Linked DNA regions of Homo sapiens. The protein of the gene in region 1 interacts with the protein of each later gene in a pairwise test. Each region holds a gene or a part of one and is shown on either strand. Other genes may lie near its edges. The genes, in order: SLC41A1 and SLC23A2.

Region 1 (3,819 bases):
CAAAATCTCTGGACCTCTTGAGTCAGAGTCCGCATTTAACAAGATTTACATGCGCTTTTAAGTTGGCGATGCCCTTGATCTAGAATACCACGGTGGGGCAGGCCTGAATCTCCTAGAATCTGCACAGTGCCTGACATTTGGGCTCCCTAAATGACTGCATCTGCGTGAGAATGAAACAGATTCTGACGGTCAAGCTCTAATACAGTCAGTCATCTGGGAGGTTTTACCCTTGACTATACTTTGTAAATACTGTGGTATGAAAATTCTGCCCTAAGGGATCCAGATGCGGGAACCACAGCCCTTAAGGGATCCAGAAGCCAGAACTGATACCTATTTTTAGGCAATCTTGGTTGCTCTCCTGTCCTCTCTCTTTTTTTTTTTTTAAATTTTAGGCTCTGCCTGAGAGAATCCTGCCCTCTCTCCAAGGAAGCCAGAGATGACTCTTCACATTCTCCCTTGCTCTGCACACAGCTGTCTTGTGCTACCACGGCCTTGGCTCCCCTACCTTCCATAACTTCACACCCTTTCCAGCAGCTGCAGAAGGGTCCCAAATAAAGAGCATGGCCAGGAGGCCTTTGGGACATGCCCTAGGAAGGGAATGGTAGCAGCTGTCCTCACATTCCAGCTTCTTGAGCAGGCCCCAGGACACACAGCTGGGAGGAGGTGGCAAAGGGATCAATAAGAGCCTTTACAGGGGATCAAGTGTCACGCTCTGGCCCTCCACAGATCTAGAGAGGACAGCAGAGGCAAGAATGTCTCCAGGGTATTCATCATGGGTGATGGCACTGAGGCTCATCCTTTCCAATTCAGGCCAAGGGATGAGCTGAAAACCTCCACCACAGACCCCTGGCATATCCACCCCCATCTTCCCACCACGTGCTGCACTGGAACCCACTAGCAATGGAATGTGGCAGCTTGGCTAACTGCTGCAGGGCAACAGCATATGGCTGATTCTCAGCCCCGCCCCTGCCAAGATGTCCGAACACAACCTTTCTAAAGCTGGGGGTGAGGGGGCTGGAGGGATAGGTGTTAATCAATACAGGACTGGCGAAATAAAATTATGGTCTGTGTATCACAGAATATGATGGAGCTGTAAGAAAATCAGGGTGTTGTTCTCTTTATGTATTGATATGGAATGATCTCAAAGATAAACTTAAATGAAAAATGCAGGGTGCAGACAGTGTGTACAGTATACTACATGTGTGTAAAAAAGAGGAAGGAAATAAGAAAAATATATGTTTACTTTTATAAATATAGAATAGGTTTGAAGGACACACAAGAAAGGGATAATACTGATGGTCTGTGAAGGAGAGAAACAGATGGCTGTGAAGAAGAGGACAGAAAAGAAGACTTTTCACTGAGGTTTCTCTATGAACCTTAAAACATTTTTGAACTATGTGACTATTCAAAAATCAAACCTATAAAAATTTAAAATGTAATAATAAGGGTGGATCTAGCTGTAAAGGGATAGCATAAGGGAGCCTTGTGGTGATGAAACAGTTTTCTGTATTTTGGTTATAGTGGTGGTCACACAAATCTCCACTTGTGATAAAAACTGCATAGAACGAACACACACGCACACACACACACGAGTGCATGTAAAACTGGTTCAATCTGAATAAGCACTGCAGATTGCATCAATGCTAATTTCCTGATTTTGATACTGTCCTAAAGTTATGCAAAATGTTATTTTCCCATGGAGGGAAATTGGGTAATGGTATATGGGATTTCTGAACCTTTTTTTTGAGAACTTCTTACAAATCTGTAATGATTTCAAAATAAAAAGCTTTTACAATGTAATAATACAAGAAGGGAGAAAGTGTCATGGTATTATGGAATGGCAAGGCTACACAGGATCCGACAGATTATCTAGTGCAGTGGTTTTGACAGTTTTTCAAGCTATGGGATGCTTTATGCAAATGAATTTCTTGAGAAAGCTCAACATGCAAAACAGAGCCATGTGGAGCTCTGTGGCCAGTGGGGTTGGCATGCAAACCCCACAGGCTCAGCATCCTACAACCACCTGCATGAAAACTACCACCCCTGGTCCATTCCTCTCAATTTACAACTGTATCGCTGAGGATCAGGGTAGTAAAAGAACAGGGTCAAAGTCACACACCATGTTGGTGACTCTACTGGAACTACCATCTGTTCTCCTGCACCCTTGTCTGGTGTTTATCAGCTGCCCTGACACAGAGAAAGAGGAGGTTGAGTGTCTAAGAGGCCAAGTCTGGCCTCCTCTCCCATCCCTGCAGGGCATCCTGGCTCCTTCCCATGCCCCTGCTCCTGCCACTTTGTACCTGGAGCAGTGCAGCTGTCATATAGAAGATGATGAAGATGAGTGTGAGGGTGGTGTGCCCGCCCTGCATACAGCTGATGGTGTAGAGGAACACCAGGTGTCCTGGGACCACGAGGAGGAAGAGGACCCGGGCTGAGCGAGAATTCACATCTGGAATTGGGGAAAAGAGGGTGTAAAGAGGAGGGGAGGAGAAGACCTGGCCCCAGAAGGCCTTTCAAAGTCAGGAGGGACGGCACCATACCCCAGGGCAACAGACAGATGAATGTCTCTACTTCTGCATCCTGTGGTCTCCAACCCCTAGGGTGCTCCAGGAAAAGACAGCCCTCCTGCCTGGGCTCTGCCCTTCAGAACAGCTGGCACAGCCCAGCAGAGAAGGAGAACCTGTGGATCTGGGGCCCCAGCTGTCTCTTAAGTGAAGCTCACTGACAGTAGGCCCACTCCCCCCAGGGCTGGGAGGCTGGGAATCTGCCGTTACCAGGGCTGAAGAAGGTGGTACAAGGACTGGGACAGCGGCGAGGAGCTTGCTCAGAGTTCTCTCCGGGCATTCCATTCATGTGCAGGAAGGTGGAGATGCGGCTGGCCTGCACTGCCACCAGATTGCCCCCAACACCTGCAGAGACACATACGGGCTTAGACACAGACAGAGGTCAGAGGGAGGAGTGGGAACAAAATGATCTTCTCACTCTTTGTCTTCTATCTATAGAGGCACTGTCCTCTGTCTTAATTTAGGGTCTATGTGGGCATCACCCATTCACCAGTCCCCAAAAGAAGAGTAAGGCACTAAGAAGGAAGACAAAGACCCCTGCTTCCAGTGCATCTTCCAGCCTCCCCCATCCTCCCCTCTATGGAGATGCAGCAGTTCCATGTTCCCCTGGCAAAGCTGTGACAGTGCCGGAAAGGATACGTGCAGATCTGCAGACTCAGAGAGCCTGACTTCTCCACCAGTAGAGCATGGGCACCTGCCTTCCTACACAGCTGAGGGGATGAAGCCCTGCCTTGCCTCACCGCCTCACCTCCTCTCCAATGCTCTGAGCAGACCCAGGCATCCTATGGTCATATGCTGATTCTGGTAACCAGTTTCAAGGATCAGGTTTGAGCTCCAAACTCTGGAATCTGGTATCTCCGCCAGGACCTGTGCTGATTTCTCTGTTGCCCTCACATCCCAACCTGCTCCCTGCTCTTCTCAGCCTTGCTCTGAGCTCTGGGGGACTGGTCTCCACAGACTGCATTACCCAGTCTCCCTTGCTGGCTGCTTCCACTGTTTGTTCAGTGGGAGGCAACAGCAGGCAACCAGAGGGCAGGTGGAGAGAGAGATCAGGTATTTCTTTCCCAATCCCTCCCTGCTTTTCAGCATTGGCTTCCCCATGTTGGGGGCAAAGACAGAGCTTTCACTGGACTCCTATAATGCTATTCCCTCGTTACTATGGTTTGAATATAGTTTGTCCCCAACAAAACTCATGTTGTGGCTTGGTCCCCAAATGTGGTGGTGGGAGGTGGTGCCTTTAAGAGTGAATAGGTTA
Region 2 (3,819 bases), on another chromosome or scaffold:
CCCAGCGACTTGGGAGGCTGAGGCAGGAGCATTGCTGGCAGCCGGGAGGTGGTGGTTGCAGTAAGCGAGATTGCCCCACTGCACTCCAGCCTGGGCAACCAGAGTAAAACTCTGTCTCAAAAAAAAAAAAAAAAAAAAAAAAATCCTCCTATTCTCACATTGCTAAGTTTGCAACAAGGATGTAGGTTGAATTTTAAAAATAAAATTCAGGGGAAGGGACTATTACCATAGTTTTATCAATAAGACCTTATTAATAAAATCTACCCTGTAGTCCCAGGTACTCTTGGGAGGCTGACGAATGAGAATCGCCTGAACTCAGGAGTCAGAGGCCACAGTGAGCTGAGATTGTGCCACTGCACTCCAGCCTGGGTGATGGAGCGGGATCCTGTCTCAAAATTTAACAAATAAAAAAAAACCTACCATGGAGCCATGATCGATTTCAACACATTTTCTAATATTTGATCATCTGTGAATTCTTGAAATGACGCATTATGCCTTGTTCTTTCATTGTGTTATCTGTAGCAGCATCTTCCCAAACAACATTCTAAGGAATAGTCTGTCAAGATATGCTTATAGATGTGTGACATTTAAAAAACAAATTAAGGGTGGACAGGGCTGGATACTAAGGCCCTTTTCTGAAGGTGAATAGAGTCTTTTGCGCATTTGCATTTTGAAAGATTGGAAGGAGTCTTACAGTAGAGAATGATGCTGAACTTTAGCACGCTACCTGAAGACATTTGAACTCAGGGCTCGTTGCTTAGAATGTGCCGCAATACATCCATCAGCTCAGGATTTGTTTGTTTTTTAACACAACCCCAGGAAAGAAAACAATGGTCCATGGTTCTCCTTTTGTATTAGTTCAGTCAGAATTTGCCGCTAAGATTGGCTGGGGAGTTTCCCTCCTTTCACAGAGCTCTGGAACAGTTTGCAAGTTAGTGCATATAGTCTCTGTTCCTTGAAGACTGAATGCACTCATTGTCTAACCATCTGGGCCCAGGGCTTCTTTTAGGAATCAGAGTCCTTCAGCAACTATCTCGGCTGCTCTTGTGGTCATGGGTTTACCGGGCTTCCTGAGCCTTCCTTTATTAGTTCACAACCTGCTCACTGAGCACCAGCTCAGCCACGGGAGGGGCAGGTGCTGGGGGTGCAGAGGTGACCCACCCAGAGCGTAGGCCCTGCTCTCACAGAGCTGACAGCCCAAGGATACAGAAGAGCTCTTGGAAACTGAAAAAACACCAGAGCATAAATGACAATCTTGGCAGAAGGAATAAGAGATAAAGCAAAGGAGAATTCTCACGAATAGAGAAAAAAGACAAAGAGATAGAAAACAGGAGAGGAAACAGGAAGAGTCCAGGAGGCTTCAGGAAGAGGTTCCAGAAAGAGACAAGTAAGGGTGGAGTGGAGGAAGGCATCTAGATAATTCAAGATCATGTCCCACCTCTGCATGCCTGGGTGCTCAGAGCAAAGGGGCTCCAGGTATCCAGGCCAAGAGACGCAAGCAGACCCACCGAGGGCAGCACGTGAGGCTCCAGACATTGGAACAGTAAGAAAACCCCAAAGCTTCCAGAATTCTAGCTTGTGTCTAACTGATGTTTCAAAAGGAGGGGAGAGAGGAGGACCCCTGGGAGACATGAGGGAGAAGCTGGGGACAGTGAGGAATCAATGGCCAAGGGCGAGCAAGGCTCGCAGAGGGTGGCGGCAGTGAAGGCCTGCAAAAGAGAACGGGTTCAGAATTTGTTCCGGAGGAGGAAGGGCAGGATGGGCTGTGTGGGGGATGAGGCGAAAGGAAGACTGAAGAACAGATAGACATTTCTGGCTGAAGCAACTAGGGGCACGGTTGTGCCATTCACCGAAAGGAGGAAAGCAGAAGAAACTGGTTTCAGGGGCAGGAAAGGAATCAAAAGTCTGGGGCTTTTTCATTTACAGATGGAGATGTCTTGTGTAACAGTAAGTGGAGGGGCAAAATAGGGGCTGGATCTGTAAGTATCGAGTTTACAGGTCTGAACTACAGGTTTCCATGGAACTATCCACCATCAAAGAAATGCGATTTCCTTGGGGGAAGTGCATGGAGAGAAGGGGGCCAGGATCAAGTGTGGAGGCACCCCCATACTTAGAGATAAGAGTGAGGAGGAGTCAATTTTGGTTACTTAAGTTTTCTGAAAACCACTATTTTCTTACTTTTTGTTTTAATTTGGGGGGAGGTAACAGTTTTGCTCCCTCTGACGGGATCTGTGGCAGATCTATGTGCACAGGCTTCCTCTTATCCTGCTTAGCTTTGCCAGAAGTTTGTCTACATTGGGTTTTGTTTCCCCCTCAAGAGATCAGCTTTTAGATTTACCACTTCTATTTGTGTCACATTTTCTGTATCTTTATTAATTCGTTCCCCCTGCTTTTACTAGGTTCATTTTTTTGTCCTGTTTTCTTAGTTACTGAAATTCTTCATGTGCTGTATCTGCTTTAAAGGTTGTGAATTTTCTTGAGAACACCTCTGGCTACTAAGTGTGACTGGTGCTGTTCTTGCCATCATTTCCTAAACTATCAGTAATTAATTGCAAAGTTTCAATTTCCTCTCTGAGAGTGATTTTTAACACTTTTTTTTTTAAGCTTGTAAGTGCTTTGTGGGTTTTGTTCATCCTTTTGTTACTGGTTTCAAATTTTACTGTACTATACCTACAATTTATCCATTTTGGCATTAATTACATTTCGCTGAAAGACTATTCTCACATGCCATCTTCCCATCTCTGCTGGTGTGAAGAATGTTTTGACCAACCTTTGGTGAAATGAGAATAGTAAGAACAATTTTGGGCTGGGCACGGTGGCTCATGCCTGTAATCCCAGCATTTCGGGAGGCCAAGGTGGGCAGATCACCTGAAGTCAGGAGTTTGAGACCAGCCTGGCCAACATGGTGAAACCGTCTCTACTAAAAATACAAAAACTAGCCGGGTGTGGTGGTGGGTGCTTGTAATCCCAGCTACTCGGGAGGCTGAGGCAGGAGAATTGCTTAAACTCGGGAGGTGGAGGTTGCAGTGAGCCAAGATCGCACCACTGCACTCCAGCCTGGGCAACAGAGCGAGACTCCATTGCAAAAAAAGAACAATTTTGGGAAAGCATGATGATGGGTATTCATGCTCATGTGTGAGATGTGTCTCCTTCAAACCTTGTTTAAAGAAAAAAAAAAACTTGATATTTTCACACACCTTAATTTAATTTGTAAAGTGTAGATAACAATTCTGCTATGGTTCCCTTTTATTTGTACGTCATGTTCTAATACACAGAACAGGATTGAGTATGATGGGTTCGGGCCCATGTCCACCACCTGGGTTTTGAAACCCACGGTGGCCACTTAATTCACTGTATGACTCTGGGCAAATCACATTACGTCGTGGTGCTCAGTGTCCTCTGCTGTTAAATGGGATAACACTAGGATGTGCCTTATCTGATACTATATACAAGTGTTATATAAAGGACTGATGCATAGTAAAAGATCAATAAATACCACCTGTTATTAAATAACTGCAGACTATTTCACAAAACAGAGCAAATGAAAAATTCTCTTATGTGATGACTTATTTTGTTTTAGGAGTTGTACTGGCTGGTTAAATTCCAGAGTAATGGAACCATATACCTACACATAATCAACTCTTAAACATGCTCTGCAGACACATAGAGAATGTGGGCTCTGTGTTACAAAGAGTTCTGTGACTCTAATCATCAGTAATATTATCAAACTCCCCTGTGACTTCATTAACACAAAATGTTAACTTTACTTAAAGGGCAAGGGACATCTTTAATGGATGTGACATTCTGTACAAAAGGACA

The links.
Region 2: the proteins of SLC41A1 (region 1) and SLC23A2 interact in a two-hybrid assay, tested with the Homo sapiens proteins (one large-scale study listed by BioGRID).

The regions. Positions count from the first base shown.
Region 1 is NC_000001.11:205,792,570-205,796,388, forward strand, and holds part of SLC41A1 (solute carrier family 41 member 1), read right to left. Parts: intron 2,910-3,819; coding exon 2,775-2,909; intron 2,450-2,774; coding exon 2,301-2,449; intron 1-2,300. UniProt on the Homo sapiens protein: Na(+)/Mg(2+) ion exchanger that acts as a predominant Mg(2+) efflux system at the plasma membrane.
Region 2 is NC_000020.11:4,879,291-4,883,109, forward strand, and holds part of SLC23A2 (solute carrier family 23 member 2), read right to left. Parts: intron 1-3,819. UniProt on the Homo sapiens protein: Sodium/ascorbate cotransporter. Mediates electrogenic uptake of vitamin C, with a stoichiometry of 2 Na(+) for each ascorbate.